Linked DNA regions of Homo sapiens: region 2 is linked to region 1. The links come from fine-mapping of genetic effects on gene expression. A gene starts in region 1. The other region holds a variant in brackets. All regions are shown on one strand. Distances are between the middles of the regions. Region 1 holds the start of STAT2 (signal transducer and activator of transcription 2). Region 2 overlaps TIMELESS (timeless circadian regulator).

Region 1 (16,327 bases):
GGACTACAGTGGTATAATCATGGCTCACTGCAGCCTCCAACACCTGGGCTCAAGCAATCCTCCCACCTCAGCCTCCTGAGTAGCTAGGGACTACAGGCGTGTGCCACCATGCCTAATCTTTTTTTTTTTTTTTTGAGACGGAGTCTCGCTCTGTCACCCAGGCTGGAGTACAGTGGCATGATCACAGCTCACTGCAACCTCTGCCTCCCGAGTTCAAGTGATTTTCCTGCCTTAGCCTCCTGAGTAGCTGGGAATACAGGCATGCGCCACCACACCTGGCAAATTTTTGTATTTTTAGTAGAGATGGGGTTTCACCACATTGGCCAGGCTGGTCTTGAACTCCTGACCTCAAGTGATCCACCCACCTTGGCCTCCCACAGTGCTGGCCACATGTGTGAGCCACTGTGTCCGGACATGCCTAATTAAAAAACAAATTTTTTTTTTTTGTAGAGATGGGGTCTTGTTATGTTTCCCGGGCTGGTCTCAAACCCCAAGACTGAAGTGATCCTCCTGCCTCAGCCTTCCAAAGTACTAGGATAACAGGCATGAGACGCCATGCCTGGCCTGGTATATTTCTAAAAGACTAAATTATAATAAATTTTTAAATGAGAAAATATTGAAAACAGTAGGTATTTTTCAAGTATGTTGGAGGACACACTAGTGATTTTTCTACAACACAATATAATTACCATAAAATATAGCGTTTCCTGGAAAAAGGTAACAAGAAATTGAAAATAACCTAAATAGCTGAAAATAGGAGTTCATTAATTAAATTATGTTACCACCATATAGGGGACTGTTGTGTGGACATAAGAAATAACATGGATAAATATAATATACTGTTGGCCGGGCATGGTGGCTCACGCCTGTAATCCCAGCACTTTGGGAGCCCAAGTTGGGTGGATCACCTGAAGTCAGGAGTTTGAGACCAGCCTGGCCAACATGGAGAAACATCGTCTCTACTAAAAATACAAAAAAACTAGCCAGGCATGGTGGTGTGTGCCTGTAATCCCAGCAACTCGGGAGGCTGAGACAGGAGAATTGCTTGAACCTGGGAGTTGGAAGTTGCAGTGAGCTGAGATCGTGCCACTGCGCTCCAGCCTGGGCAACAGAGAGAGACTCCGTCTCAAAAAAAAAAAAAAAAAAAAAATATATATATATATATATATATATAAAAAATACTGTTAAGCTTAAAAAAAACCCCATGGATTTCAAAATAGTATGGACAATATGATTCCATTTTTGTTTAATAAGCTAGGTAATAGGTAATTTTCTCTTCCTCCTTCCTTCCTTCCTTTCTTGTCATTGTATTCGTTGCAGTAAAAAAAAAAATACATATATATATATTTCTGGGTGATTAAAAAAGAAGGAAAAACCAGATTGTGGGTTAATTCATTCCTTTCCCTGAAGGAGACTGGGCTCTGGGCTCCCTGCGTGGTGAGGATGAGGAGCAGAATAGAGCTGCAGTCAGCAGGGAGCAGGGCTCATTCTGGGGAGCAGAGACAAATAGAGAACAGTATCTCTTGCTATATGCAGGGCACTGCAACTTACAAATCACAGCGCATGGCGAGGACGAGGGTTGGGGTGGTACCTCTCACCATGTCTCCAGCTGTTCCAACCCGTGGTCAATGGGAGCTCTGATGCAGGCTTTTTGCTGCTGGGCCTTCCACTCCTCCAACTTTGGCAGCAGTAGCTCGATTAGGGTAGTTAATCGGCCTAGCAGTGCTTTGGAGGCATCCAGCACCTCCTGGGAAAGAGATAATGTGAGTGTTGAGCATCTCTCCCTTTCACCCTCCACCACCCAACTGGGGATGAAGAAACAAAGAAGCCAGCGCTAGAGGACCAGGGTCCCCACATCCCTCATTTTTCCAGGTCCTTGTTGCCCACATGTTCTGTCCTCTGTCTCCCACCTTTCTCCTTTTGTCCAGTTCATTGAGAGTTTCCTGCAGAATCTTCTGCTCTTTGGTCTGATGGGGGTCCAGAGAGGGTGTCTTCCCTGGATGGTGGGAACAGGAGTCAGTCCAGGGGTTCTTTCCTCTCCTTCCTGACTGGGGTCTCAGTCAGAGTCAGGAAGGAGGAATTTTGTGGAGGAAGAAAGGGAAACCAAGCAAAGCACAGGCACCTGTGGGACCCTCAGGCAAATTCTGAATGGTCATGCTTGGACCAGACACCCCCTCAAATAAAACACTGTTAGTTTTCCATGCATTTCCTCAACATTTACTGTCTCTCAGCTGCACCTCCAGCTCAGCCTCCACAAAGCACTTCCAGCTTTGCACGGCAGCAGGACTGTAGTCAGTGGGGTGTGTCTGACAGTGACTACTGCTCATCGGAGCTTTCTCCTGTTCACTTCCAGCTCCGGCTTCTCAGCAGGCACTTATCTTTCTCCAGCCCCTCAATGTGCTTCCTACCTTTGGCCTGGATCTTATATCGGAAGCAGAAGACATCCTGCTGGTCTTTCAGTTGGCTGATGGATTTTACCAGCTTCTGCAGAGGGGAGAGGACCCCGATGAGGCTGCTTCTCAGGGAGGTGTTAGGCTGAACGCTGTCAACCCTAACTCCTACCACATCTACTAACCTCCATCATAGCCCTTAAATCCAGGATCCGGGATTCAATCTCATGTTGCTGGCTCTCCACAGGTGTTTCGAGAACTGGCTCTCCTTGTTCCTGAAAAAAGAGGCTCTGAGCACGTTTTAACTCTGGCCTTTCATGCCTTAAGTTCAGGCCTGAAATTATACCACAGGATGTCGGGGGGATCCTGTTCTGAGACAACTCCCTGAGTCCTTTCCATGGTTCCTCTCTACTTCAGGAGTTTCCAACATTACCACTGAATTGTCCTCACCAATTGGGCCCTCTGAGCCTGGATCAAAATTCTTTTTTCTTCCAGAAGGAGGTTAAAGATCATCTCAGCCAACTGGGTAGGATCCTGGGAAAAGGGCTAGAATAGGTAAACAGAAAGGATTGATCCAATTCAACCACTCTCAATGACCTATTGCCCTAGACCCTCCCCACCAATGTCCACAGTATTTCCTCCTCCTTCGGGGTTCTTAGCCCTTTGTCTTTTCACCATAGCATCCTCCCAACAGTGTCACGTATATGCAACCCTTCTCTCTGCTAGTGATTCCCCAAGTCCAGACTCTGTCCTCCTTTCCCCACATTTGTTCCCGTCTCCCTTTCCACCTCCAGGTACTATTCTATTCTCCAAACCTTACTCCTCTATGCTCAGCTCCCAGTGCTACCCCATCACTCCCAACCGTTCCAAGTACCTGAATGTCCCGGCAGAATTTCCGCAAATTGTGCTGCAGCAACAAGGACTCTGGGTCCTGGCTGCAACGGCCACACTCATAGTTCAGCTGATCCAAGAAGTGGAAGAATAGCATGGTAGCCTTGGAATCATCACTCCCAAGTGCAGCTTCCTGCCTGGGCACCAGGAATAAGAAGTATTAGTGTCTCTGCAGTGTTACTGTAGTCCTGAGGCTTTCCAACCCCTTCCTGCCATTAATGATTCCAGGATCCCGGGGGCCCAGAAGTAAGGAACCACCTTTTTCATTCCCCCAACTTCCTGAAGGCCTCACCAGTTCTGGTCTTCAATCCAGACAGCCAAGTACTGTCGAATGTCCACAGGCAGGAGGCTGTGCGAGTAAAGCTGGTGCAGCTGATCCTGAAAGGGGCTGTCAAGATTCTGCAGCATTTCCCACTGCGCCATTTGGGCTCTGCGTCAGAAGGATGAGGGTTCCCAATTGGATATTTTGCTGGACTAAATCATCCATAGTTTCATGATTGTTCATTATTACTAATTTAAAATGTTTAAATTATACAAGTAATAAAAATACAGAAAACATTAAAATATATGTTGATCCTACTGCTAATCTTGGTTCTTTCCCCTCCTCTCCAGAAGTAACCACTGCTATCAGTTTGGTGCATATTCTTCCAGGGAGTGCTACCAGTTGAGTATCTGCTATTCCAAGCATTTTGGATTTCAGATTTGTCCAGATTTTGGAATATCTGCATTACTTACCAGTCGAGCATCCCTAATCCAAAACTCTGAAATCTGAAATGGTCCAAAATCTAACTTTTTGAGCACCCACATGACACTCAAAGGAAATGCTCACTGGAGCATTTTGGAGCCAAATTTTTCAGATTAGGAATGCCTAATCTGTATTTTTTTTTTTTTTTTTTTTTTTTTTTTAAGATGGACTCTCACTCTTTTGCCTGGGCCGGAGTGAAGTGGCATGATCTTGGCTCATTGCAACCACCATCCCCCTGGTTCAAGTGATTCTTCTGCCTCAGCCTCCTGAGTAGCTGGGATTACAGGCACCCACCACCACGCCCAGCTAATTTTTGTATATTTTTTAGTAGAGATGGGGTTTTGCCATGTTGGCCAGGCTGGTCTCAAACTCCTGACCTCAGGTGATCCACCTACTTCGGACTCCCAAAGTACTAGGATTACAGGCATGAGCCACTGTGGTCCCAACCTGTATTTTTTTTTTCTTCAGATGGAGTCTCGATCTGTTGCCCAGGCTGGAGTGCAGTGGTGTGATTTTGGCTCACTGCAAGCTCCGCCTCCCGGGCTCATGCCATTCTCCTGCCTCAGCCTCCCGAGTAGCTGGGACTATAGGCTCCCGCCACCATGCCCGGCTGATTTTTTTTTTTGTATTTTTAGTAGAGATGGGGTTTCACCGTGTTAGCCAGGATGGTCTCGATCTCCTGAACTCGTGATCTGCCTACCTCGGCCTTCCAAAGTGCTGGGATTACAGGCGTGAGCCGCTGTGCCCAGCCGGCCCCAACCTGTATTTTAATAGCTTCAATAAGTGGGCCTTTGTGCTTTAATGGGAATTTTCTTTCTTTTTTTTTTTTTTTTTTTGAGACAGGGTCTCACTTGGTCACCCAGGCTGGAGTGCAGTGGCATGATCTTGGCTCACTGCAGCTTTGACCTCTCAGGTTCAAGCCATTCTCTGCCTCAGCCCCTCAAGGAGCTGGGACTACAGGAGTGTGCCATCATGCCAGCTAATTTTTTGTAGAGATGGGATTTTGCCATGTTGCCCAGGCAGATCTCAAACTCCTGAGCTCAAGTAATCCGCCTGCCTCAGCCTTCCAAAATGCCGGGATTAACAGGCATGAGCCACCATAACCAGCCTAATGGTAATTTTCAAATACACACTAGAGTAGAGTGAATAGTACAAGGATCACCATCCAGCTTTAACAAACATTACTATTTCCACAATCTTATTTCATCTATCTCCCTAATTCATTTATTTTGCATTTATGTGTGTGTTTGTTATTTATATTTGATTGTGCTAAAGCATTTAAAGATCAGTGTTGATGTTAAGTATTTATTACAGCATGATCCCTGCTGGCTCTGAAGCTTTTTTTTTTCTTTTTTTTTTTTTCTTTTTTTGAGATGGAGTCTTGCTCTGTCACCCAGGCTGGAGTGCAGTGACACGATCTCGGCTCACTGCAAACTCTGCCTCCCGAGTTGAAGGGATTCTCCTGCCTCAGCCTCCCGACTAGCTGGGATTACAGGCGCCCACTACCATGCCCAGCTAATTTTTGTATTTTTAGTAGAGATGGGGTTTCACCATATTGTCCAGGCTGGTCTGGAACTTCTGACCTCAGGTGATCTGCCCACCTTGGCCTCCCAAAGTGCTGGGATTACAGGGGTGAACCACCATGCCCGGCCACCTGAAGCTTTTTTAGGAGCCAAATCTTTTTGGTGGTCAGGTAAGTACACCATATAAACTGCCCTCCATATAGGAAGGAGGAGCTCCATTCTAGAAGACATCTAAATGCTGTGCAATGGGTGGCTCAATCCCAAGAATATGACACGTTTATGACCTGTGAATCTTGAATATGATTATAGGTTATCAACTTTGTGAGATCCTGAAACTTCACTTAAAATTGTTGCCTGTAATCCCAGCTACTCAAGAGGCTGAGGCAGGAGAATGGCTTGTACCCAGGAGGCAGGGGTTGCAGTAAGCAGAGATCACATCACTACACTCCAGCCTGGGTGACAAAGCAAGACTCTGTCTCAAAAGAACAACAAATTGGTTTTTGCCTGTCACCAAGCAGGCTGTCCCATGCATCTTTCTCCCCACTGTTCCCTGCTCACTGCCAGCTGGTGTCTATTTAGGAAACTGAAACTTATGCTTGTTGCAGCCTGAGCCTAACAGAACAGAATTCATGCATATTTGTGGTCTAAAAAGGTCACATGATTTTATTACAAAATAAAGAGAAATGCTTGGGGTGGGAGAGTCTTCTACTAACATGAATAACATCAGCTGCCTTTCTACCTCCAGCAGGAACAAGGGAAGGGAGGGATTGGGCAGGGGCTATTTTCATTTTAACTCTTTTAGTAGTGCTTGATTTTTAAAACTATGTATCTGTATTGCTTTTATGATACCAAAAAAAAGTTAAAAAAATGATCAGGTGGCCAGGCATGATGGCTCATGCCTGTAATCCCAGCACTTTGTGAGGCCCACAAGACGAGAGGATGGCTTGAGCCCAGGAGTTTGAGACCAAGCTTGAGCAACATAGTGAGATTCCATCTCCAAAAAAAAATTAATGATGAGGTCCCAATTCTTGAGGATTTAAGTGTCTGATATTAAAGGAGCAAGTCAGCAAAGATTCAAATATGAAAACAAAACAAAAAACCTGGTCTCCCCAAATGGATTGCAAACACTGAGGTTAAGGGCTGAAACAATTTTTTCTCATTATCTCTCATTCTTAGGCACATATTTTGCACTCAAGAAGCTTTTCTGAAATGAACTGAATTTTGTGTGTGACCTTAGGCAATCGTTTCATCTTTCAGTAGCTTATACTTTTTAACAAAACAAGGATAATAGATTTATCTATCTTTGTTTTTAGATTTATCTATCTTTGAACATCGTTTTTTGGTGAAGATAAAAAATAATGCAGAGCAGAGGGAAAAACGTCAGATACCGAACCAACATAACAATGCCAGATTCCGGGTCTCGGAAGCTGCAGGGCAGTTTTGGGAGAGGGGCATTAGGGTTAGGGAGATAGGCTGGACAGAAGAAGATCGAGGACCGAGCAGGCGACAGCTCCTATTTCAATCTGGGGACCGAAGCTACCCTCTCCAGGGGGTAACCCCTGGGGCCAGTCGCCCTTCCCTCGGAGGAACTCTCACTCTCACCCCCACCCCTACCCCAGCACACCCTCTCAGGGCCCGTACCTGATTAGGGTTGCAGTCCCCGCGCCCTCCAATGGCTCTGGTCGCGACTTCCCGTCCCTAGTATGAGCTCGGGTACTAGAACCTCGCGCCCCGCCTACAACTTCGGCTAACCCCCCTCGGACCCGCCCCCTTGTAGTTGGCAGCGGAAGTCCGGAGCGGCCCCCATTCCCAGCCGCCACCCCGACACTGGCTGCCATTCAGTCAAGCCCTTCCCAGACTGCGAGCTCACTGGCGCCGCCGCAACTCCGCCCCTCCGCAGGGCGGGACAAGCTGAGCCGAAACCACACCTGCAGCTTCAGCGATTGGTGGAGAAGTTCAAGTAGGCACTTTCTACGAGGGGAGGAGTCCAATTAGTGGACTAGCCCAAGACTGAAACAGCTGATTTTCGAGAACCCGCGCGTGAGCCCCGGAACCGAAACTAGCTTGAGGAGCCTGGAGACGCCAAGGGCTCCATGGGAAGGGGTGGGACCGGAATTTCGACGCCTTGGGATAGGAAGAGGAGGGCTGAGGTAATGAAAACAATTTTTTTTTATTTTTATTTTTTGAGACATGGTCTCGCTCTGTCACCCAGGCTGGAATGCAGCGGCGCGATCTCGGCTCGCTGCAGCCTCGACCTCCCAGGCTCAGGTGATTCTCCCGCCTCAGCCTCCCAGGTAGTTGGGACTACAAGCGTGCATAACTCCGCCAGGATAATTTTTTGTATTTATTGTAGAGACGGGGTTTCGCCATGTTGCCCAGGCTGATCTTGAACTCCTGACCTCAGGTGATCATCCCGCCTCAGCCTCTCACAGTGCTGGGATTACAGGCGTGAGCCACCGCACCTGGCTAATAGCTATTTATTGAAAGTACTGTGATAAGCATTTTAGATTCATTGTATCATTTTAAATTTACAGGGCAACTCATTGAGGTTAAAATCATTCTATCTCCTTTAGAAACTTCAAAACTGATCTTAGTTCAAGAAAGAAGTTACTATTCAGTGATCACCGAGGCTCTAACAAGTGGAGCCTAGATTCGAAACCAAACCCTGTGACTTCAACACCCAAACATTTACGTTCTTACGTTTTACTGTACAGCCTTCCTCCTGGATAAATCAGATTAAAATTTTGAAGACATGTATATAGCTTGTCAGGGTAGTACAGTTATTAATTCTGTGGTTACCACATTCTTTTATATCTCAAGACTCCCAGCCCCAGGATCTAAGTCATAGCTCTTGATTATGGCCCACCCCCAGTAGGGAGCTGAACTTACTACTTCTGATATGAAAGAAGCCAGAGTAGTTGTTTCTTCCAAGTCACTCACATCTGAGATGGCCCTCAAACCCTCCTTGGTGGTCTCCGGCTGAGAGATGTTTGCGTCTTTCTGATCTTGGTAATACTGGATCAACTGCTGAACCCCAGACCTTAATGCAGGTTTAAGTGCAGCACTGATCGCTAGACCCATAGGCCCCCCTGACATCCCAGCCATGGTCATCAGAAGGTCATATCCCAGATCTATGGCCCCATCTCGGCCTCGTTCCCTGGCCTTGCCCAGGCAGTTTTGAGTAGCATAATACAAAGCTGTGCCCAGGTTGTAGAAGGTTCCCACTCCTGGCAGCAGCTGGACTACATTGTGCACAGCTTGCTCCTTCTCATTCTCACAGTCCTCTGTCGGGAGGGAGCGCCCGACCCTTCCTGTGCTTTGCTGCTCCCTGGCTAACAGCTGCAGAGCAGAGGCCAGGGCTTCCACTGACACGTTCCTCTCTGTGCTTCTGCCTTTCTGGAGCCCTCGAAGATGCTGGATGAGGACCTGTGTAGCATTCACACCACCCTGGCGGTAGAGCTGTAGCTGTAGAGCCCAAACATCAGCCTGACAACCAGCTTCCTCCAGGGCATTCCTTAGAGCCAGGCTTACCAAGAACTTGGGTAGAGGGGCCATGTGGCTGAAACCAGGCAGTGACTTTGGGTGCAGAAATTGGCAGGACAAGGGGTCTGAGGAGGGTGTCTGGGATTCCAAGGACAAGGGAAAGTGCATCAAGACATTTGTCTGCTTTCCATATGAAGTGGCATCCACAGGGTGCAGCAGGAGGTAGCAAAGTAGCAGCTCAACTGGTATCATGATGAGTCTGAGGCCACGCATGTCTGGAGCAGAGTACCCTAGAAAGGGGAGAAATCCGAAACATACAAACCATTTCCCTAAGGGCGATGGTGAGCCCAAGACTCAGTTAGGGGGACACCTCATACATCACCTGCTTCCAAGCTTTTGTACTTTCTTTTTAGAGACAGGGTCTTGCTCTGTTGCCCAGACTAGAGTGCAGTGATGGGATCACAAATCACTGCTGCCTTGAATTCCTGGGCTCGAGGGATCCTCCTGCCTCAGCCTCCCAAGCAGCTGGGACTACAGGTGCGTGACACCATGCCCAGCTAATTTTTAAATTTTTTGTAGAGACGTGGTTTTGCCATCTGGCCCAGCCTAGTTCTGAACTTTGGGCTCAAGTGATCCTTCCACCTCCGCCTCCCAAAGTGATAGGCTTCCAGATGTGAGCCACCGCGCCTGGCCCCAAGCTTCTGTTCTTTTTAGGTAAAGGCCTAGGAAATAGGAAATGCACCCCAGTTGCTCCCACTTGGTCTCCCCCATTTACAGGTCACCAGGGACTTCTGTTTTATTTCCACCCATATATAGGGACCCCAAATTACCACACAGTCCAGTCATTGAGAAGTGAGACTGCCTTGGTAGGTTTGATCGCTTCCTGATCCTGTTCTGCCTAGTTCTGTGTCCCATGAGGAAAGGAGATATTTGCTTTCCCCTATGATCAGTGAAGGATGTAATCTCTGCAAATATTTGCCCATTTATACTGGCTGCTCAAACCTTGTGCCCCTTGTCACACACTCAACCTCTATGCCTACAGTCCTGTTCTTTGGCATTTCCTGTATGTCCCTGCCACATTCCCACTCTAAGCTCATGATAGGAGCCAGGGAAATTCAGAATTAGGAAAGATGAGATGTTTGTGATACTCTCATTTCTCTTCATTTTAAAAATTAAATTAGCGGCTGAGCATGGTGGCTCACGCCTGTAATCCCAGCACTTTGGGAGGCCAAGGCGGGCGGATCACAAGGTCAGGAGTTCGAGACCAGCCTGGCCAATATGGTGAAACCCTGTCTCTACTAAAAAAAAAAAAATATATATATATATATATATATATATACACCCAGGCGTGGTGGTGGGCGTCTGTAGTCCCAGCTACTCAGGAGGCTGAGGCAGGAGAATTGCTTGAACCCGGGAGGTGGAGGTTGCAGTAAGCCAAGATCGCACTACTGCACTCCAGCCTGGGTGACAGAGTGAGACTCCGTCTTAAAAAAAAAAAAGGAGGGGAGCTGACACCTACTAAGTGGAGAGGGGCAAGGCTAACACTGGTCACATATGTGTTTAAGGGAAGAGGTGAAATAAAGAGCATTCATCTGTCCTAAGTGGTCTCCAACATTTCTAACTACTTACTGTGTGCCATCCTTGAATACAGTCCTGGGAAAGGAGACTCATTACTTATGTGATATTGAATAGCTGAAATGAGCCGGGATCAATTCCTGGATCATTTTCCTCACAAAGCACTTCAGAATAGCTGTGGAACATTTGATAGATTATATTGTCACTGTCCATGGACAATTTAAATGATCTTGAGAGCTTCTTCAACTTTTTGCCTAATTCTTCAATATGCTCCCAAGACTCATACCTGCAGTTCTTGGTGATGTGGACACCCAAAACTTTGAACTGTGACACCAAGCATCATGGGAGATGGTTTCTCAGCAAACTCAATCACCATCTGAGCTACCTGGTAGGCCAGCTACCCCAGTGGGTATATTTGCCACCATCCATACATTTCCCAGGATGGGCAGCTGGGTGCTGGGTTTATTCACACTTCCCTAAGGGACTACTAGATTCGTCACAATGATGTTGGTATTGCCTTCCTCCCCATTGAACTTTTTGACTCTCACGGATGAGGGTTTCAGTGGTATCCTTTCCTCGCATCTGAAACTGCAGAACATGGGCCTCAGTTGGGCAGCCCACCTCCTCCAAGGGCACCCTCAGAGCTAAGTTGGACAGGTACTCAGGCAGAGGGGCTAGGGAGGGGGCTGTGTGTAAGAGATCTTGGCAGATCCTGGGATCTGGGAGAGGAATCTGGCTCTCCATGTTCTCCAAATAATGGAGAGCATGTTTGATGGATGCCCAGTCTCTGTTAAAGATGGCTGGAGGGTCAGAGTCTCATTCTGAGCATTTCTTGGAAAGGCAGACACCAGGGACAGCAGGACACAGCAAAGCAGCAGCACAGCTTGGACCATGGGGGGACAGCAGAGCAGCCCTGCTGGAAGGAAGCAGTGCTCAGGTTGGGAAGTGGAGAAAGGCTCAGGACAAAGAGACACCAAGACTGGCCAGAGCTAGAAAGTGTCTTAGCTCTTGGAAACTTCGGTTGCCCTGAGCACACCTCATCTTCACTCTTAAAGGATGTGGGTGATCCTCCTATTTTGAGGAGAAACAAGTCAGAGGAAAAAAACAGTCCAAACATCTCATTTGCTTTGGTATCTTCATGACCTGAATTACTATTATTGTTGTTGTTGCTGTTTTTAATCTGCCCTTTCCCAGAATCACAAGGAAACCAGAAAGTTGATGGCTTCCAAAACAGTGAAGGACAAAACATTTGCAAATATTTATGCATCTCTTCCCAGCCCAGACTTTGTCCTTCTCACCTTTGACCCATACTGACAAACTGACCTTTCCCCTTTTAGGCCCTGCAGTCCTGTCCCATATCTTTTTTTTTTTTTCTTTTTCTTTTTCTTTTCCTTTTTTTTTCTGGAGACACAGTCTCACTCTGTTGCCCAGGGTAGAGTGCAGTGGCACGATCACAGCTCACTGCAACCTCCACATCCCGGGTTCAAGCGATTCTTGTGTCTCAGTCTCCCTAGTAGTTGGGATTACAGGCACGCACCACCATGCCTGGCAAATTTTTGTTTTGTTTTGTTTTCTGGAGACAGTCTCACTCTGTTGCTCAGGCTGGAATGCAATGGCGTGATCTTGGCTCACTGCAACCTCCACTTCCCAGGTTCAAGAGATTCTCTTGCCTCAGCCTCCCGAGTAGCTGGGACTACAGGTGTGCGCCACCACGCCTAGCTAATGTTTTTGTATTTTTAGTAGAGATGGAGTTTCACCATGTCAGTCAGGCTGGTCTCAAACTCCTGACCTCGAATGATCTGCCTGCCTCGGCCTCCCAAAGTGTTGGGATTACAGGCGTGAGCCACGGCACCCAGTGACATATCTTTTCTATCCTAAGGTTTTACCCTAAACCTATATTTGAGCTGAGGAAAAGGTCCTCCGTATCTTCTTGAGGGGAGAAAGGGTAAGGCAGAATAGCTGGTGATCTCTGGGACCCCTAAACCATTTTTCTTTTCTTTTTTTTTCTGAGACGGAGTTTCGCTCTTGTTGACCAGGCTGGAGTGCAATGGCGCGATCTCAGCTCACTGCAACCTCCGCCTCCCAGGTTCAAGTGATTCTCCTGCCTCAGCCTCCCAAGTAGCTGGGATTACAGGCGTGTGCCACCATTCCCGGCTAATTTTGTATTTTTGGTAGAGACGGGGTTTCTTCATGTTGGCCAGGCTGATCTTGAACCCCTGACCTAAGGTGATCTGCCCACCTTGGCCTCCCAAAGTGCTGGGATTACAGGCTTGAGCCAGCCACAGCGCCTGGTCACCATTTTTCTTATTAAAAGAATATATTGGTTGGGAAGCCAAGGCAGGCAGATGGCTTGAGCCCAGAAGTTTGAGACCAGCCTAGGCAACATGGCGAAAGCCCCGTCTCTACAAAAATTATAAAAATTAGCCAGGAGTGGTGGCATGCACCTGTAGTCCCAGCTACTGGGGAGGCTGAGGTGGGAGGATCACCTGAACCTGGGGAGGTCAAGGCTGCAGTGAGCCATGATTACACCACTGCACCATCCAGACTGGGTGACAGAGCGAGACTTTGTCTGAAAAAGAGAATATACTGGATGGGAGTCCAGGGAAACTGGACAGATTGACAAATAAGACAAAATCAGAGCAACTTTTTTTTTCTTTTTTAGAGTCCAGTCCAGGTATTGCTCTATCTCCCTGGCTGGAGTACAGTGGCCTGATCATGGCTCACCACAGCGTTTAACTCCTGGGTTCAAAAGATCCTCCTGCCTCAGCTTCTCAAGTAGCTGTGACTACTGGTGTGCACCACCATGCCTAGCTAAAATTTTTTTTTTTTTTTTTTGTAGAGATGAGGTTTCACTATGTTTCCCAGACTGGTCTTGAACTCTTGGTCTCAAGCAGTCCTCCCACCTCAGCCTCCCAAAGTGCTGTGATTAGAGGCATGAACCACTGCACCTGGTTTATTTTTCACTTTTCTAATTCCAATGCAAAACACAAATAAAACATGTCCATCAGCTGAGCAGTAACTTTCCAAATCTAACCAAAACTCCAGGAATTAGGCTTTATCTTGGGTTTAGGGGTAACATTAGTCCAAAAATTAGGGAAATAAGACATCTGATGCCTCCTAAAAATGGTACCAGTTCCTACATATCATTATGGCCTAAAGTTTCCTCTGATGTCACTCACCTCAGGCACATGGCCAAAGGGACTAGGCCAATGGCAGGGTCCAGGGTCCCTCCCTCTATTTTTTTCGGTTCTTTCAGTTCCCAGGAGTGGCCCCTGACAACTAAGAGCAAAGACAGAAGCAGAGGAGTAAGTCTCCAGGGACACAGTGCCAACTTAGAAACAGCAAGAACTAAGTGGAAAGGAGTCCAACACTGTCTGAAATTACTAGACCCCAAACCCCTGGGGAATCCCTAAGACAATATATATACATATACCTACATGGATAAAATATACGTACACACACATACACGTATACCAGGCTGGAGTGCAGTTGGTACAATCACAGCTCACTGCAGCCTTGAACTCCCAAGCTCCAGCAATCCTCCCACCTCGGACTCCTATATATCTGGGACTTCAGGCACGTACCACCACACCTGGCTAATTTTTAAAATTTTCTTGTAGAGAAGGGAACTCACTATGTTGGCCAGGCTGGTCTCGAGCTCCTGGGCTCAAGGGATCCTCCTGTCTAGGCCTCCCAGAGTGCTGAGCCACTGCACCCAGCCTCCTAGGACTCTATAGTTTCTGTGTAGCAACACTAGAAGGAGTGAAAGATTTAATCCTTGTCTCCTAAGATCTATCACAAAGCAGAAATATCCATTCTTACCAGTTTTTCCTCATTGTACTGGAAGTTCTAACCAGTGTAATGTGGAAAGAATAAAAAATAAATGGCATAAAACTAGAAAGGAAGATGTAGAACGATATTTATTTAAATACAACATAGCTCTGGCTGGCTCAGTCGGTAGAACATGAGACTCTTAAAAACAACATGGGGGCTGGGCGCAGTGACTCACGCGTGTAATCCTAGCATTTTGGGAGGCTGAGACGGGCAGATCACGAGGTCAGGAGTTCAAGACTAGCCATGGCCAGCATGGTGAAATCCCGTCTGTACTAAAAGTACAAAAAATTAGCCAGGCATGGTGGTGCGCACCTGTAATCCCAGCTACTCGGGAGGCTGAGGCAGGAGAATCACTTGAACCCGGGAGGCAGAGATTGCAGTGAGCCGAGATCTCGCCACTGCACTCCAGCCTGGCAACAGAGTGAGAGTCTATCTAAAAAAAAAAAAAAAAAAAAAAACCAGCAACAACAAAAAAACAAAAAAAAGACATGGGGCGGGGCTTGAGACCAGGAGTTCGAGACCAGCCTGGCCAACATGGTGAAACCCCATCTTTACAAAAAATAAAAAACACAGCCAGGGGTGGTGGTGTGCATCTGTAGCCCCAGCTACTCGGGAGGCCGAGGCAGGAGAATTGCTTGAACCCAAGAGGGGGAGGTTACAGTGAGCTATGATTCTGCCACTGCACTCTAACCTTGGTGACAGAGTGAGACCATGTCTCAAAAAGTAATAATAATAAAATTTAAAAAAGTAATACAAAATAAAAACAACATGGACTAGGCATGGTGGCTCACACACTTTGGGAGGCCAAAGTCCAGGAGTTCAAGACCAGCCTGGGCAGCATAGGGGAGACCCTGTTTCTGCAAAAAAAAAAAAAAAAAAAAAAAAAATTAGCCAGCTCAGCTGTCCAGCTGTGGTGGCACACGCCTGTAGTCTCAGTTTCTCAGGAGGATCACTTGTGCCCAGGAGGTTGAGGCTTCAGTAAGCTGTGATCGTACCACTGAACTCCAGTCTGGGTGACAGAGGGAGACCCTGTCTCAAATAAATAAATAAATAAATAGATAGATAGATAGATAAATAAAATAATAATTAAAAAATAAAAAATTAAAAGAAACAATGTGATTGTTTATGCATAAATCCTAAAGAATACAATTTTAAAAGGACCAATAAGTTAATTTAGCAAGGTGACAAGATAAAATATTAATATATAAATGAATTCTATTTCTGTAGTCTAAAAACATACATTGAATGTTAACTTAGGGCCGGGTGCGGTGGCTCACACCTGTAATCCTAGCACTTTGGGAGGCCAAGGTGGGTGGATCACGAGGTCAGGAGATCAAGACCATCCTGGCTAACACAGTGAAACCCTGTCTCTACTAAAAATACAAAAAATTGGCCAGGCGCGGTGGCTCACACCTGTAATCCCAGCACTTTGAGATGCTGAGTCGGGTGGATCACAAGGTCAAGAGTTCAAGACCACCCTGGCCAACATGGTGAAACCCCATCTCTACTAAAAATACAAAAATTAGCTGGGCGTGGTGGTGTGTGCCTGTAATCCCAGCTACTCAGGAGGCTAAGGCAGGAGAATCGCTTGAACCTGGGCTGCAGAGGTTGCAATGAGCCGAGATCGCGCCACTGCACTCCAGCCTGAGTGATAGAGTGAGACTCCATCTCAAAGAAAAGAAAGAAAAAAATTTAGCTGAGTGTGGTGGTGGGCGCCTGTAATCCCAGCTACTCGGGAGGCTGAGGCAGGAGAATCGCTTGAACCCGGGAGGCGGAGGTTGCAGTAAGCCAAGATCGCGCCACTGCACTTCAGCCTAGGCAACAGAGCAAGACTCTGTCTCAAAAAAAAAAAAAAGAAAATTAACTTAGAAAATTCCAGCTGGTTA
Region 2 (16,327 bases), 76 kb after region 1:
CAGGCCAGGGCCTCACTCTTGATGATGCGGCTGCTCTCCCTCACAGCCTCATCTGGAGATATGTCCATCTCATTCACTGTTGCCAGCAGCTCCTGATAGGCCTTCAGAGCCAAGTGCATCCTGAGAGTTGACGGGAAACGGTGAAATGGAGGACAGCTTAGGGCAATGGCCCATGGAAACAGCAACTTCCCACAGCGAAAAAAAAAAATGTGCCACCCAAACTAAATTTCCCAGCCAGTCCTTGCTCCCCAGACTGATCACCTGAACCCTGAATCAGGAAAAAAGCACCAGCCAGAATTCAAGCATTCAGATCCCTAGCTCACTGTATCTCCAGTAACCATCCCACTCACCGGCGTGCCCAGGAGGCAGCTTCCTTGCGGTCAGTCAGCATCATCTCATAGTAGTTGGTGAGGTTCTGCTCAATGAAGTGGAAGGTACGGACACTGAGGGTCTCAGAAACCAGGCCTGGCCGGAAGGAGGCAGCTCGGTTGAAGGCCATGAAGAAAGCCAAGGCCCACATATAATAGGTCTCATCATGCTGCTGAGCTTTCTCCCGAAGCAGGTGATCCTGACATTTAAAAAAGAAAAAAAAAGATCACCATGACTCCAGGGCTTCCAACTTCTTCCTTCCTGTCCTATGATGATGGAATGGATGCTGGACACCGTCATAATTTTTTTTTTTTTGAGGCGGAGTCTCACTCTATTGCCCAGGCTGGAGTGCAATGGCATGATCTCGGCTCACCGCAACTTCCACCTCCTGGGTTCAAGCGATTCTCCTGCCTCAGCCTCCTGGGTAGCTGGGATTATAGGTGCCCGCCACCACGCCCAGTTAATTTTTTGTATTTTCAGTAGAGATGGGGTTTCACCATGTTGCAGGCTGGTCTCAAACTCCTGACCTCAGGTGATCCACCTGCCTTGGACTCCCAAAGTGCTGGTATTACAGGCGTGAGCCACTGCGCCTGGTCTTTTTTTTTTTTTTTTTTTTTTTTGACAGTCTTGCACTGTCATGATGAGGCTGGAGTGCACTGGTCTGATCTCGGCTCACTGCAACCTCTGCCTCCCAGGTTCAAGTGATTATCCTGCCTCAGGCTCCTGAGTAACTGGGACTACAAATGCACACCACCATGCCGGCTAATTTTTTTTTTTTTTTGTATTTTTTTTTTTAGTAGAGATACGGTTTCACCATATTGGCCAGGTTGGTCTTGAACTCCTGACCTCAAGTGATCCACTGCCTCAGCCTCTCAAAGCGCTGGGATTACAGGTGTGAGCCACCACGCCGGGACACCGCTATAATACTCTAGGATCCACAATTTCCAACTCTCTCCTGTTCTCCCTTTCCTCTCCCTCTGAGGCAATTTTTCCAGAGCCTCTTTTGTCATGCCAGGAGCCCACTCGTTCCTGGCATTTTCACTATCTCTCAGGGACATCCTAACTGTATATCCTTCCCACCTACGAGTCCACATTCCAGGGGCAGCCTCCCCGAGCTCCTCCCCACTTCTTACCCACCAACAGCTGCATCATCACCTGTCTATTCCATTCCTGATTATCTCCATATCCTTCACAGGTTCTCACCTTTACTGATCCCATGAGCCGGTTGTAACAGTTCTCCAGGAACTCAGAGCAGAAGTCTCTGAGGAAGAGCCTCACATTGAGGGCAGAACGGCGCTGAATGGACAGCTCTCGGGCGGCCTGGCGACGTTTAGGCACCTTTTTCGGCTGCTTTCCCAAATCTGAACTGTAGTTTCGTAGCTGGGTGTGTCGGTTGGGGGATTAGAATTACTCCTAAATACCACTTTCCCCTTGCAGCTCTCGTCAATTTTCTCAGAAGAAACTAATTTTTGTTTTTCTTTTGAGACAAGAACTTGCTCTGTCACCCAGGCTGGAGTGTAATGATGCAATCATAGCACACTGGAGCCTTGAACTCCTGGGCTCAAGGAATCCTCCCACCTCAGCCTCCCGAGTAGTCAGGACCACAGGCGGGTGCCACCATGCTCAGTTAGTATTTTTCACTTGTTGTAGGGACAGGGTTTTGCCATGTTGCCCAGGCTGGTCTCGAACTCCTGGGCTCAAGCAATTCTCCTTCCTTAGCTTCTCAAAGTGTTAAGATTACAGGCATGAGCCATTGTACCCAACCTTTAATTTAATTTTTTTTTTAGAGACAGGGTCTTGCCATGTTGCCCAGTCTGATCTTGAACTTCTGGGCTCAAGCAATCCTCCTGCCTCAGCCTCCCAAAGTGCTGGGACCACAAGTGTGAGCCACCAGGCACAGCCAAGAACTCTTAAGATGATTACCCTGCTTAAGCTATGCAACTCCACTATGTTCCCACTCCAGATGTAAGAATACTCACGTTGTGAAGGCCTTTGTGAAAGATGAGGTCCCTCTCCCCAATGGATTTCAACCCCTGGACAATATAGGAGCCCCCAAATCGAGAATGCCTGCAGAAACAAAAAGGTCCAAGGTGATTTTTCAGTTCTCTGGAAACTTTATCTCCATTCTCTATCATCGGCACATTGGAGCAAGTTAAAACTACAAAATGTTGGTCGGGCACGGTGGCTCACGCCTATAATCCCAGCACTTTGGGAGGCTGAGGCAGGCGGATCACCTGAGGTCGGGAGTTTGAGACCAGCCTGGCCAACATGGTGAAACCCTGTCTCTACTAAAAATACAAAAATTAGCCTGGCATGGTGGCATGCGCCTGTAGTCCCAGCTACTGGGGAGGCTGAGGCAGGAGAATCGCTTGAACCCAGGAGACAGAGGTTGCAGTGAGCAGAGATCGTGCCAGTGCACTCCAGCCTGGGCGACAAGAGCAAAATTCTGTCTCAAAAAAAAAAAAAAAAAACACTAAAATGTTGTTCAATCACCCCACCTTAGAATTTGCCTTCTATGCCCTCAGCATTCCATGATGTAGGAAAAAGAACCTGCCTCTCTGTCACTCACCTGTTGCCTCGCTGGAGGGCTCGAGTCTTCTTTTCTGCCATCTCTCGCTGGCGCAACACCTCCAGTTCTGCAAAATCTGCACTCCGCTCCTGAGCTAAGCGTCCCTGCCCTACTCCCGCCAGCTGCTCGGGGTTCTAGATTGGAACAAAGAGGGAAGAATCAGGAGGACAGTCATTCCTTATCCTGAGTTCACGCCTACTGGGGATGCAAAGAGTGAACAAAATAGAACCCCATTAATGGGGCATTGTGCTGTCGTTCTCCCTTATCTGAGGGGGAAATGTTCTAAGACACCCACTGGATGCCTGAAACTGCAGACAGTACTGAAATATATATATGTATATATTCATATATACATATATATATTTGTATGTGTATACACATATACATAGAACATGTACGTTCTATGTTTTATAGAATGTATATATGTGCTATATATATAGTTATCAGAAAACAGAACATGTATACATATATATATACGCACATACACATATTCTATTATGTTTTTTCAATTTGATAACTAAGATGGCTAGTACATGACTAACAGGCGGGTATACACTGTGGATATGCTGGGCAGAGGGATGATTCACATCTTGTTTAGGACAAACAGGGACAAAAGATTTCATCACACTACTCAGAACAATGTACAAGTTTAAAACTTCTAAAATGTTTATTTCTGAAATTTTCCACTTAATATTTTCAGACCATGGTTGACTGTGAGTAACTGAAATCAAGGAAAGAAAACCATGAATAAGGGGGTACTACTGAACTCAAGACATGGCTACTCCTGCTGTCGCCTGCCTTCCCCAGATAATGCAGCCATTATCACAAGAGCAATTCTGGCTGTACAGCAGAAAAGTACATGGGCGGAGGGGACTCGGGCAATAGGCCAGGGTCTCACCTGGTCACGAAACATAAGGGAGACAATCTCTAGCACATGTAGGCTCCATTGCTCCTCAGCAGACGAGCTGGCCAGAAAGAGGAGCAGGTCATCCAGGCCGCTGAGGTGAATCGCCCAGAGGAGCTGGTCATGGGCACTGGCGTCATCATCAATCTTCTGAGCAGTGAGTGGTGAGGGTAGAAAGGAAGCTCATTCAATCCCACTGCCCTGCCTTGAAGCTCTCCAACTCATTCTTTGACCAAGCCTCCTCTCCCAGACTTGTCAGAGGACAGAATAGCCCAAAAAGGGCAGCTTGGCCGGGCGCGGTGGCTCACGCCTGTAATCCCAGCACTTTGGGAGGCCAAAGTGGGTGGATCACAAGGTCAGGAGATCGAGGCCATCTTAGCTAACATGGTGAAACCCTGTCTCTACTAAAAATACAAAAAAAAAAATTAGCCAGGCATGGTGGCGGGCACCTGTAGTCCCAGCTACTCAGGAGGCAGAGGCTGAGGCAGGAGAATGGCGTGAACCCAGGAGACAGAGCTTGCAGTGAGCTGAGATCGCACCACTGCACTCCAGCCTGGCGACAGAGAGAGACTCCGTCTCAAAAAAAAAAAAAAAAAAAAAGGCAGCTCAACCTAACCATGCACAAGAACACAGAACACCCAAGACCCTCACCTTCTCCTGATCAAGGTCAGCTGGGACATGGAGAATATTTCTGACCAGCAGTAGGATCCGTTCAATCAGCAAGTTGTCTTCCTCCTGCCGTTCCTCCCAGCCCTAACCAGAAGAGAGTAAGAGGAAGAGACTCCCTGTGGAAGGCAGGCAGTATGTACTCTGGCTGGAAGACCCAGGCATAGAAGAGAAGCAGGATTAAAAAGAAAGAGTTCAAACAGTACTGAGGCAGCCAGAGACTATGGATCGGACTACCACATCCCCAAGGACTGGGACCATATCTCAGCATCTCCTCCTCTGCCCGGAGAAGGTGCAAAATGCTGTCCCATGGTATCCTGTAAGGTGAAGACTCACTCACCAGCTGCAGCAGCTCATACAAGGTTTCACTGAGGACTCCAAAAGCCTTCTCACTGGCAAAGGCCTGTGAAATAGGGAACCTGATCTTAAGTAGCAGTCATCCACTTCTTCACCACTGCCCCATATTCCACCCCAGGGACTCCAAAGGAAATCCTCACCTCTTTGTAGGCCTGCAAATAAGTTAGCACCTGCAAAAAATGGTGCCGAAAGCTGGGCTCCTTAGGCAGATTGCCAAAACAGAGCAAGGCTGGTTGTGTCAAGTTCACCATCAGTCTGGGAGACAATGAAGGAGGGAGAAGTTGTTAAGTTTCTTTACCAGCTCAAACGCCAAACCTATCAGCTCAAACACCAAAGCCTGGCAGGTGGCAAAAGTTTAAAAGCTAGGGAGGCAACCTGATAACAGCATCAAAGAGAGGCTTGTCCTGGTGGTGCTGGGTGAGGATGGGCAGAAGGTCGCTCTGTAGGATCTGGGCTGCCCCCAGCTGCTGCCGCACATCTCGTGTCTCATCCTCATGCCTCAAATAGCGGATCAGATCCTTCACGCTCTCTTCAGAGACAGAACAAAACATGCATGTGGAACCTTGGAAGAAGCTCCATCCAGACCCACATCTTTTCACACCCATGGTTTGAGGAATTCAACAGACCTCCTTAATTCAAGCCAATTTTTTTCCTGTTTCATCAAAAAGGTACTCACCTAAGCAATCTGGTTCCTTATGGTAAGTGTCTCCCTCCAAGTACCCAAGGGCACTACATGTGGCTAGAAGTTCACAGTTCATCATGTGCAAGTCCATACATCAGTGGACCAACCAACAGAGAAGGAAGTGGAGAAACAGGAGACAGAAATGATGAGGCCTGGAGAAATAGAGAAAGATAAAAAATGTAAGTTCCTCTCCATGAAAAGAAGATAGGAACAGGACGAGGCCCTAATGCTCAGAATATTCTGAACAAGATCCTCAAATGTTTGACTTTTGTCACAACCAAAAGTTCTGCTCTCAGCCCCAGAGAAAGTTTTAAATAATGGCTTCTACCTGATCAAAACCAAAGAGGCTCCAGCCTATGAATTAAGCACCTACCCTGGCCAGGCGCGGTGGCTCACGTCTGTAATCCCAGCACTTTGGGAGGCCAAGGCAGGCAGATCACCTGAGGTTGGGAGTTCGAGACCAGCCTGACCAACATGGAGAAACCCTGTCCCTACTAAAAATACAAAATTAGCCGGGCGTGGTGGCGCATGCCTATAATCCCAGCTACTCGGAAGGCTGAGGCAGGAGAGTGGCTTGAACCCAGGAGGCAGAGGTTGTGGTGAGCCAAGATCATGCCGCCACACTCTGGCCTGGGCAACAGAGCGAGACTCTGTCTCAAAATAAATAAATAAATAAAATTGTTAGACCCTGGCTGGGCACAGTGGCTCATGCCTATAATCTCAGCATTTTAGGAGGCCAAGACATGATGATCATTTGCCCCAGTGTTCAAGATTAGCCTGGGCAACATTGTGAGACCCCATCTGTACAAAAAGCCAACCGTTGTGGCACACACCTGCACTCCTACCTACTCGGGAGGCCGGCTGAGATGAGAGGACTACTTGCGCCTAGGTGTTTGAGGTTGCAGTGAGCTGTGATTGCACCACTACACTCCAGCCTGGTCTACAGAGTCTCTGGAAAAAATAAATTGCTCAACCCTGTCACCCTCCACTTTCTGTGGCTCTTCCAGGCAGACACAGCTCTGATGTACCACAGGAATTAAAAAAACCGAGCTCTGGCCATACAGTGATTCCACCAAGGATCTAATACATCTCAGGAGCCCTGAGGCTTCTGAGACACTGCGAATGTGTAGAGAAAGGTCCTTCACTCTCCTCTCCAAAGTTACTCTTAAACCTTGGTAATTTCAGTAGAAATCAGCATCTAACAGAACAGGTGAGGAAATGGAGTGAATAGAAACTGGTACATTCCCTATCACTATCTCCCAAAGAATCATCTTCTTTTAAAAAAAAAAAAAAAAGAGAAACAGGGTTTCACTCTGTTGCCCAGGCTGGAGTACAGTGGCATGATCACAGCTCATTGTAACCTCAAATTCCTGGGCTCAAGCAGTCCTCCTGCCTCAGCCTCCTGAGTAGCTATGACTCTGGGCATGTGCCATCATGCCTGGCCTTTTAAAAAATTTTTGTAGGCCAGGTGCGGTGGCATCCCAGCACTTTGGAAGGCCAAGGCAGGCAGATCACCTAAGGTCAGGAGTTCGAGACCAACTTTGCCAACATGGTGAAACCCCATCTTCTACTAAAAATACAAACATTAGCTGGGCGTTGGCCGGGCACGGTGGCTCATGCCTGTAATCCCAGCACTTTGGGAGGCTGAGGCGGGCGGATCATGAGGTCAGGAGATTGACACCATCCTGGCTAACACGGTGAAACCCCCTCTCTACCAAAAATACAAAAAATTAGCCAGGCGCGATGGCGGGCGCCTGTAATCCCAGCTACTCAGGAGGCTGAGGCAGGAGAATGGAGTGAACCCGAGAGGTGGAGCTTGCAGTGAGCAGAGATTGTACCACTGCACTCCAGCCTGGGCGACAGAGCGAGACTCCGTCTTAAAAAAAAAAAAAAAAAAGAAACAGCTTGTTTAACACTCCGAAAAAGTATACAGTATATGATATAATCTCAGCTATGTCCTTTAAAATCCATAATCACTATGAAAAACTCCATACTGTCTATGGAAAAACCAAACTCTGACAAATATTTAAAGAGACTTATTCTTAGCCAATGAGTAACTGCAGTCCAAGAAAACACTAATTTAAGAAGTCTTGGCTGGGCGTAGTAACTCATGCCTGTTATCTCAGCACTTTGGGAGGCCGAGGTGTGTGGATCACCTTAGGTCAGGAGTTCAAGACCAGCCTGACCAACATGGTGAAACACTGTCTCTACTAAAAATACAAAAATTAGCTGGGTGTGGTGGTGTGTACCTGTAGTCCCAGCTACTTGGGAGGCTGAGGCAGGAGAATCGCTTTAACCCGGGAGGCAGAGGTTGCAGTAGGCCGAGATCACGCCACCACACTCCAGCCTGGGCCACAGAGCAAGACTCCATCTCAAAAAATAAATAGAAATAAATAAAAATAAAAAGTTGGAGTCAGTAGAAAGGAATGTTTAATATTAGCGTAAGTTAGTTAAGGAAGTCTGCTAACCATCGTGTGATTGATGCTATGCCAGAGTCAAGTTATGAGAGCAAGCCATAACATACTGGGTCCAAGTGACCTGTTTAGCAAGATGGATGGGCTGCAGACATGGCTCTCTCCAGGCTCCTCAGAAAGGAATTTAGAACACCGAACAGTGGTCAGAATTCAGTAAGAATACATTATCCTTATTTTTCTCATTTCACTTCAGACGGATGGAAATGTCATCATATATTAGTGTTCTTCTAGCATTTAGAAATCATTGATTTATATAGTAAAAATCATAAACCAGTCCAACAAAAGGAAAGCTCCATGCTGTAGGGCTTCATTTTGTTTTGCTCATTGCTGCATTCTCCAGTGCCTAGAA[T/C]AGAGCTTGGCATATAGCGAGCATGCAATTTTTTTTTTTTTTTTGAGACAGAGTCTCACGCTCTGTTGCCCAGGCTGGAGTGTAGTGGCGTGATCTCGGCTCACTGCAACCTGTGCCTCCCAGGTTTAAGTGATTCTTTGCCTCAGCCTCCCAAGTAGCTTGAATTACAGGCGCACGCCACCATACCAGGCTAACTTTGTATTTTTAGTAGAGACGGGGTTTTACCATATTGGCCAGATGTGTCTTGAACTCCTGACCTCAGGTGATCCACACACCTCGGCCTCCCAAAGTGCTGGGATTACATGCTTGAGCCACTGCGCCCAGCCAAGCATGCAATAAATATTTGCCGAATTTTGAATCAACAGATTATCCTGGGTCATACCCTTTGAAACAGTAAACTGATTTCAGAAAATATAACTGAAGAAAATAATTCATAAAAGAAAGGAAATCATTTGTACAAAACCAAAAATAGTAATACCTTTTCCTAGTACACTCAAGTTTGCAAAATGATTTTATAGCTTTTTTTTTTTTGAGACAGGGTCTCACTCAGGCACCCAGGCTGGCACCCAGGAGTGCAGTGGTACAATCACGGCTCACTGTAACTGAGGAAGCAGAATACAGAAAATGAGGCAGGATAATAGTAAAGGGAATTTAAAGTTGGATAAAGGGCAGAATGAGTAAGAACATGAGAGCAGAAGCAAGGTGAAGGGGTAGGTGAGCAAGAAGCAAGATAAAAGGCAGAAGTTAAGCAGGCCAAAACAAAAAGTAAGCTAAGAGAAGCAAGCAAGGACCCCATGGCCCGCAGGATCAAGACCAAACCAGCAAGGGGCAGCTCTTCAGGGCAAGTCATATGCATCAAAGAGAAAAAGTGTCCTTATGATGACCCCGTATGATAATCAACTCATCAACGCTCATGCACATGGACTGCATATCATGCATGTACTTAAAATTATGGGATGGAGGCAGCAGGCAAGCACTAAGCAACACACCCATCAATCAAAAAGGCAGACACTGACTAGAGATTAGGCAGCCAAAAAAACACATAAAAAGACCCAAACTACACCAAACTAATGCTGATCTCATTTTGCAGAGGTCAGTCTGCTCTCTCGCTCCGAGAGTGTTAATACTGGGCTTGATAAACATTTTTTTTTTTTTCTGAGATGGAGTTTCGCTCTGTCACCCAGCCTGGGGTGCAGTGGCACGATCTTGGCTCACTGCAACCTCTGCCTCCCTCCCGGGTTCAAGCGATTCTCCTGCCTCAGCGTCCCAAGTAGCTGGGATTACAGGCATGCACCACAACACCCAGCTAATTTTGTATTTTTAGTAGAAACGAGGTTTCTCCATGTTGGTCAGGCTGGTCACAAACTCCCGACCTCTGGTGATCTGCCCGTCTTGGCCTCACAAAGTGCAGGGATTACAGGCGTGAGCCACCGTGCCTGGCTTGCCCAGCTAATTTTTTGGTATTTCTGGTAGAGACAGGGTTTCACCATGTTGCCCAGGCTGCTCTGGAACTCCTGACTTCAAGTGATCCTCCTGCCTCCTAATTATGCTAACTCAAATTTGAAAGTCTATATTTAAAAAGGGCACAGCCAGGTTCAGTGGCTCACGCCTGAAATCCCAGTACTTTGGGAGGCCAAGGCGGGAGGATCACTTGAGCCCAGGAGTTTAAGACCAGTTTGGGCAATATAGTGAGACCTCGTCTCTACAAAAAATTTAAAAAATGAAATTATCCGAGTGTGGTGGTGTGTGCTTGTGGTCCTAGCTACTAGAGAAGCTGAGGTGGGAGAATTACTTGAGCCTGGGAGGTGGAGGCTGCAATGGGCTGATATTGCGCCACCGCACTCCAGCCTAGATGACAGAGCAAAGCTCTGTCTCAAAAAAAAAAAAAAAAAAAAAAAAAAAAGGAATGGAATACTGACTGATACATGCCATGAAGTAGATGAAACTTGAAAACATGTTCAGTGAAAGAAGCCAAACACAGCCGGGTGCAGTGGCTCACACCTGTAATCCCAGCACTTTTGGAGGCCAAGGTGGGCAGATCACCCTGAGGTCAGGAGTTGAGACCAGCCTGGCCAACATGGTGAAACCCTGTCTCTACTAAAAATACAAAAAAATTAGCTGGGCATGGTGGCGGGCGCCTGTAATCCCAGCTACTCGGGAGGCTGAGGCAGGAGAATCGCTTGAGCCCTGGAGGTGGAGGTAGCAGTGAGCCCAAATCGTGCCACTGCACTCCAGCTTGGGCACCAAGAGTGAAAACTCCTTCTCAAAAAAAAAAAAAAAAAAAAAAAAAAAAAGAAGCCAAACACAAAAGGTCATATATTGTATGATGGAATTTATATGAAATGTCCAGAATAGGCAAATGCAATAGGCTGATATGGGCACAGTGGCTCACGCCTGTAATCCCAGCACTTTAGGAGGCTGAGGTGGGCAGAAATGGTTGTACAACTCTCTGAATATACTAAAAATCACAGAATTGTACAGGGGTTTTCTTTTTTTTTTTTTTTCTTTTGAGACAGGGTCTCACTCTGTTGACCAGCCCAGGTTGGAGTACAGATCAATCATGACTCGCTATAGCCTCAACTCCTTGGCCCAAGCAATCCTCCCACCTCAGCCTCCCAAGCAGCTGGGACCACAGGCATTCAATACCACATCTGGCTAATTTTTAAATTTGTGTAGAGCTGGTACCTCCCTATGTTGCCCACACTGGTCTCAAACTCCTGACTGGCCTCAAGCAATCCTCCTGCCTTGGCCTCCCAAAGTGCTGAGATTACAGGTGTGAACCACCACACCTAGCCTGAATTGTACACTTTAAAAGGGTGAATTTTACAGTATATGAATTATATCTCAAACAGCCGTTATAAACAACACTCCACACAATTACTATACGCATTCTGTTTCTACCATTTTAACACCAAAAAAACTACAGACAAAAATCTCAGGATAAAATACTGTCCTTCAAATTTAATAAATATGACTTCATGAAAAAATTCATTACATTGACTTTATTTTCACATTTCATCATAGACCAGGTGAGAACTTTGTCAAACACCACAGAGCCAATGGAACTGGACATTTAAAAGGGATGTTAGTTACTTTTCCTACTCAACTAAGTATCAAGCAGTTCAGATGAAGCAATATGCATCTGAAATCAATACTTGGAGGCATTAAAATGCAAGAACCAAAAGAAAACAACAGATAAAATATTAAATGTATTTGCAATTCAAATTAACCTTTTTTTTTTTTTTTTTTTTTTTGAGACAGAGTCTTGCTCTGTCGCCCAGGCTGGAGTGCAGTGGCACGATCTCAGCTCACTGCAACCGCCACCTCCTGGATTCAAGCAACTCTTCTGCCTCAGCTTCCCAAGTAGCTGGGACTACAGGCACGCGCCACCATGCCCAGCTAATTTTTGTATTTTTAGTAGAGATGGGGTTTCACCATATTGGCCAGGCTGGTCTCAAACTCCTGACCTCATGATCTGCCCACCTGGGCCTCCCAAAGTGCTGGGATACCAGGCATGAGCCACTGCGCCCGACCAAATAAACTTACTTTTTGAAGACGAAACAAAACACTCTACCTGCCCCAAACCAACTCTGCTCCAAGGATCCTCTTTGAGACCCAGTAGTATGAACAAAATGGCATCTAGCACTTGAATTCCAATTCTGTCTGGTACTAAACTGGTGAACTTGAGCAGGTGGCTTAACTAAATCTCTTTCCTTATCAGTATACTGAGGAAATAATAATAATACCCACCCTCACAAGATATTAGGGAAGTGTAAATGAGATCATGTAAAGCAATGCTACTCAAACCTTGGTCTTCAGACCACTGCCAATCCACAAACTATTAGCAGTCTGCATCAAGGTAAGTACAGAAAGAAAGCATTAGCACTTAGAACATCTTAGGGCAATTTGACAGGCAGTTTACAGTTTTGTTTTGAGACAGGGTCTCCCTCTGTCACCCAGGCTGGAATGCAGTGGCGTGATCTTGGCTCACTGTAACCTCTGCCTCCCGGGTTCAAACTATTATCGTGCCTCAGCCTCCCAAGTAGCTGGGATTACAGGCCTGTGCCACCATGCCAGGCTAATTTTTTTGTGTTTTGTAGTTGAGATGGGGTTTCGCCATGTTGCCTAGGCTGCTGAACTCCTGGCCTCAAGTGATCCACCCACCTCGGCCTCCCAAAGTGCTGGGATTACGGGCATGAGCCACTGCACCCAGCCAATGTTTGTTGAATCTAATGATGATAATAATAAAAAGCCTGTATTCTCTATGTCTTTTTAAATGTTATTTTTCTAGTAATTTTATTTTACAGAAGTGCTTTTAGAACACTACTGATCTGCAACAGCTTGAGGGAAAAATCTACCTGGTCCTTTACCAAGACAGTTTGAGAAGCAGTGATATTAAGCACTCTACCCAGTGCTGAGCACAAAGTAAGAATCCCTGGCTGGACATGGTGGCTCACGCCTGTAATACTAATACTTTGGGAGGTTGAGGTGGGAGGATCACTTGAGTCCAGGAGTTTGAGACCAGCCTGGGCAACATAGCGAAGCCCAGTCTCCACAAAAAATAAAACACAAAAATCAGCCGGGCATGCTGATGTACACCTTTAGTCCCAGCTACCCAGGAGGCTAAGGCAGGAGGATCACTTGAGCCCAGGAGGTTGAAGTTGCAACGAGCTGAAATTGTGCCACTGCACTCCAGCCTGGGTAACAGAGTGAGACCCTGTCTCAAAAGACAAATAAACAAAACAAACAGAACCCCTCCCCCGCCCCAAATATTAATTTCCTCTCCATCTGTCAGACTCTATAGTCAGTTACTAAATGCTTAGGGAGAACCTTCCTGGCAAAAGATAGCGTGCAGGTGCAATGGTAGCGCTAAAGAAATTTAAGAAATGTAGATGCAGAGGCCAGGCGCGGTGGCTCACGCCTGTAATCCCAGCACTTTGGGAAGCCAAGGCGGGTGGATCACAAAGTCAGGAGTTCATGACTAGTCTGGCCAACATGATGAAACCCCGTCTCTACTAAAACTAACAAAAAATTAGTCAGGTGTGGTGGCGGGTGCCTGTAATCCCAGCTCCTCGGGAGGCTGAGGCAGGAGAATCACTTGAACCAGGGAGGTGGAGGTTACAGTGAGTTGAGATCGTGCCACTGCACTCCAGCCTGGGCGACAGAGTGAGACTCCGTCTCAAAAAAAAAAAAAAAAAAAGAAATGTAGTTGCAGAAATAAAATCCACAAATATAGAACAAACAATGTAAAAGATAAGGCAGTACAAGCTCTAAATACGTGATACTGAAAAAAACTAAAAAACTAGTACTCTTTTCAGGTTAAAGTGGTCAAGGAGGTTTTGTCTGAGGAAGCATGATTAGAACTGGGCCTTTGAAAGCTGCATAGGATTAAGGCAGCTGGGAATAGGATGGGCATTTAAGCAGAGAACTGCCAGTGCAAAACCAAAGAGGGAGCCATTATGAATAGATGAGTCCAACAGGAAAGCAATGGAAAAGCAGCTGGAACCAGCTTTATGGGAAAAACCTCATCTTTGTCCATCAGTTCAAAGATTTAGAACCTAAGCCAGGGAGCCACTGAAGATTTCTGAGCTAGAAAACAAAATGATCAAACCAGGGTCACACATATCCTACTACTGTATCACTATATACATCAGTTTGGCCATTTTCCCGTGTGGCCTCTATCTCTTTTCCTTTCAGTGCACTCACCCTGCAAAAGACCATACATAACCTCAGATCAATGCAACCATCTGCTTCCTAGACTTCAATTCAAATCTAGGCCCAGATGTGCTGGAGAAAACCAAACGACCCTCTATAGTGATATAAGATAGATGATGTTGCGGGAAGTCAGGGACCCCGAATGGAGAGACCGGCTGAAGCCACAGCAGAAGAACATAAATTGTGAAGATTTCATGGACATTTATTAGTTCCCCAAATTAATACTTTCATAATTTATTACGCCTGTCTTTACTGCAATCTGTGAACATAAATTATGAAGATTTCATGGACATTTATCACTTCCCCAATCAATACTCTTATAATTTCCTATGCCTGTCTTTAATCTCTTAATCCCGTCATCTTCATAAACTGACAATGTATGTCATCTCAGGACCCTGTGATCACTGCATTAACTGTACAAATTGTTTGTAAAACGTGTGTTTGAACAATATGAAATCAGGGCACCCTGAGAAAGAACAGAACAACAGCGATTTTCAGGGAACAAGGAAAGATACCATAAGGTCTGACTGCCTGGGGGGTCAGGCAGAATAGAGCCATAGTTTTCTTCTTGCAGGGAGCCTATAAACGACATGTGAGTAGGAGAAATATCACTGAATTCTTTTCCCAGCAAGGAATATTAATAATTGATAACCCTGGGGAAGGAATGCATTCCCAGGGGTAGGCCTATAGACGACTGCTCTGGGATTATCTGTCTTATGCGGTTGAGATAAGGGATGAAATATGCCCTGGTCTCCTGCAGTGCCCTCAGGCTTACTAGGATTGGGAAATTCCAGCCTGGTGAATTCTAGTCAGACTGGTTTTCTGCTCTCAAACCCTGTTTCCTGTTAAGATGTTTATCAAGACAATGTGTGCCCAGTGGGACATGGACCCTCATCAGTAATTCTAATTTTGCCCTTGCCTTGTGATCCTGCTCTGCCCTTTTGCCTTGTGATCTTTTATTGCCCTTTGAAGCATGTGATCTCTGTGATCCACTCCCTATTCGTACCCCCCTCCCCTTCTAAAATCCCTAATAAAAACTTGCTGGTTTTGCGGCTCAAGTCGCCATCATGGTCCTACCAATACGTGATGGCACCCACAGAGGCCCAGCTGTAAAATTCTTCTCTTTGTAGTCTTTCTCTTTATTTATGAGACCAGCTGACACTTAGGGAAAATAGAAAAGAACCTACATTGAAATATTGGGGGCTGGTTCCCCCGATAACATGTATAGCCTGCAACCTGAGCAGGGCCTTCAGCCTGGTCCAGCAAATCATTTCGGTATTCTTTTTTTTTTTTTTTTTTGAGACAGAGTCTTGCTCTGTCATACAGGCTGGAGTGCAGTGGCGTGATTTCGGCTCACTGCATCTCCGCCTCCTGGGTTCAAGCGATTATCTTGCCTCAGCTTCCCAAGTAGCTGGGATTACAGGTGCCCGCCACCACGCTTGGCTAATTTTTGTATTTTTAGTAGAGACATGGTTTCACCATGTTGGCCAGGCTGGTCTGGAACACCTGACCTCGTGATCCACCTGCCTCGGCCTCCCAAAATGCTGGGATTACAGGCATGAGCCACCGTGCCCAGCCTCATTTCTGTATTCTTGGTCCCCTTCATTGTCTCTTCCCAAAGAACCACTATTCCTAACTTTCATCATTATCCTCAAGCCCCTTCACTCTACTGCTTCCTTGCCTCCCACCTGGTTTATCTGCTTCCTTCCTGTTAGGAACAATTGAGGTTATCAGACATGAACTCTCTCAACTCTCTCCACCCAAGCCTAAAAACATACATATTTCAAACACCCACCCTTAGTTCTTTGCTTCTAATCTAAGTACTCTGTGATCCTCATTAATCACTTCCTGTCCCTTAGTTGGTTATTCCTTATTTCCAACCTTCCCTTTATACTAGCCCCATCCCCATATATTATGAGTTGCTCAAGGCTATTCCATCTGTTTTTTTCTTTTGAGGCAGTATCTCAAAAGTGTAGTGATGTGCAGTGGTGCGATCTCGGCTCACTGCAGCCTCAAGCCCCCAGGCTCAAGCTATCCTCCGACCGCAGCCTCCCAAAGTGCTGGGATTACAGGCATGTGCCCCCACACCTGTCCTAGCTCATCTTAAGGGGGGAAAAATCCAACATAAAATAAAACTTTCCCCTTTGATCTCTTATTGGCTGTTCCTCCTCCTACTTAAGTGCTGATTTTCCTTAGGCCTGCATCTTTAGCCTTCTTCCCTTCTCACTGTACGCGGCCTGAT

What was found.
Region 2: its variant is fine-mapped to the expression of STAT2 in whole blood (TOPMed, PIP 0.97).

The regions. Positions count from the first base shown.
Region 1 is chr12:56,352,868-56,369,194 of GRCh38, forward strand. STAT2 (signal transducer and activator of transcription 2) reads right to left here and starts at 7,240. Exons shown (of 24, transcript NM_005419.4): 1 at 7,191-7,240; 2 at 3,574-3,711; 3 at 3,265-3,418; 4 at 2,841-2,936; 5 at 2,576-2,665; 6 at 2,409-2,484; 7 at 1,911-1,996; 8 at 1,599-1,747. The coding sequence starts at 3,704. It overlaps APOF (apolipoprotein F), which reads right to left and starts at 9,990. Exons shown (of 2, transcript NM_001638.4): 1 at 9,863-9,990; 2 at 7,701-9,322. The coding sequence starts at 9,878. The coding sequence ends at 8,358. RefSeq lists enhancers at 6,107-6,306, 6,138-6,307, 7,383-7,562, 7,633-7,722.
Region 2 is chr12:56,428,533-56,444,859 of GRCh38, forward strand. TIMELESS (timeless circadian regulator) reads right to left here. Exons shown (of 29, transcript NM_003920.5): 2 at 5,542-5,699; 3 at 5,241-5,394; 4 at 5,006-5,120; 5 at 4,849-4,911; 6 at 4,494-4,595; 7 at 3,837-3,992; 8 at 2,939-3,072; 9 at 2,349-2,436; 10 at 1,573-1,749; 11 at 351-568; 12 at 17-120. The coding sequence starts at 5,638. Among named protein-coding and RNA genes, the nearest start is that of TIMELESS, 13 kb to the right of the region's middle. RefSeq lists an enhancer at 14,701-15,334. The variant T/C (reference allele first, on the strand shown) is at 8,371.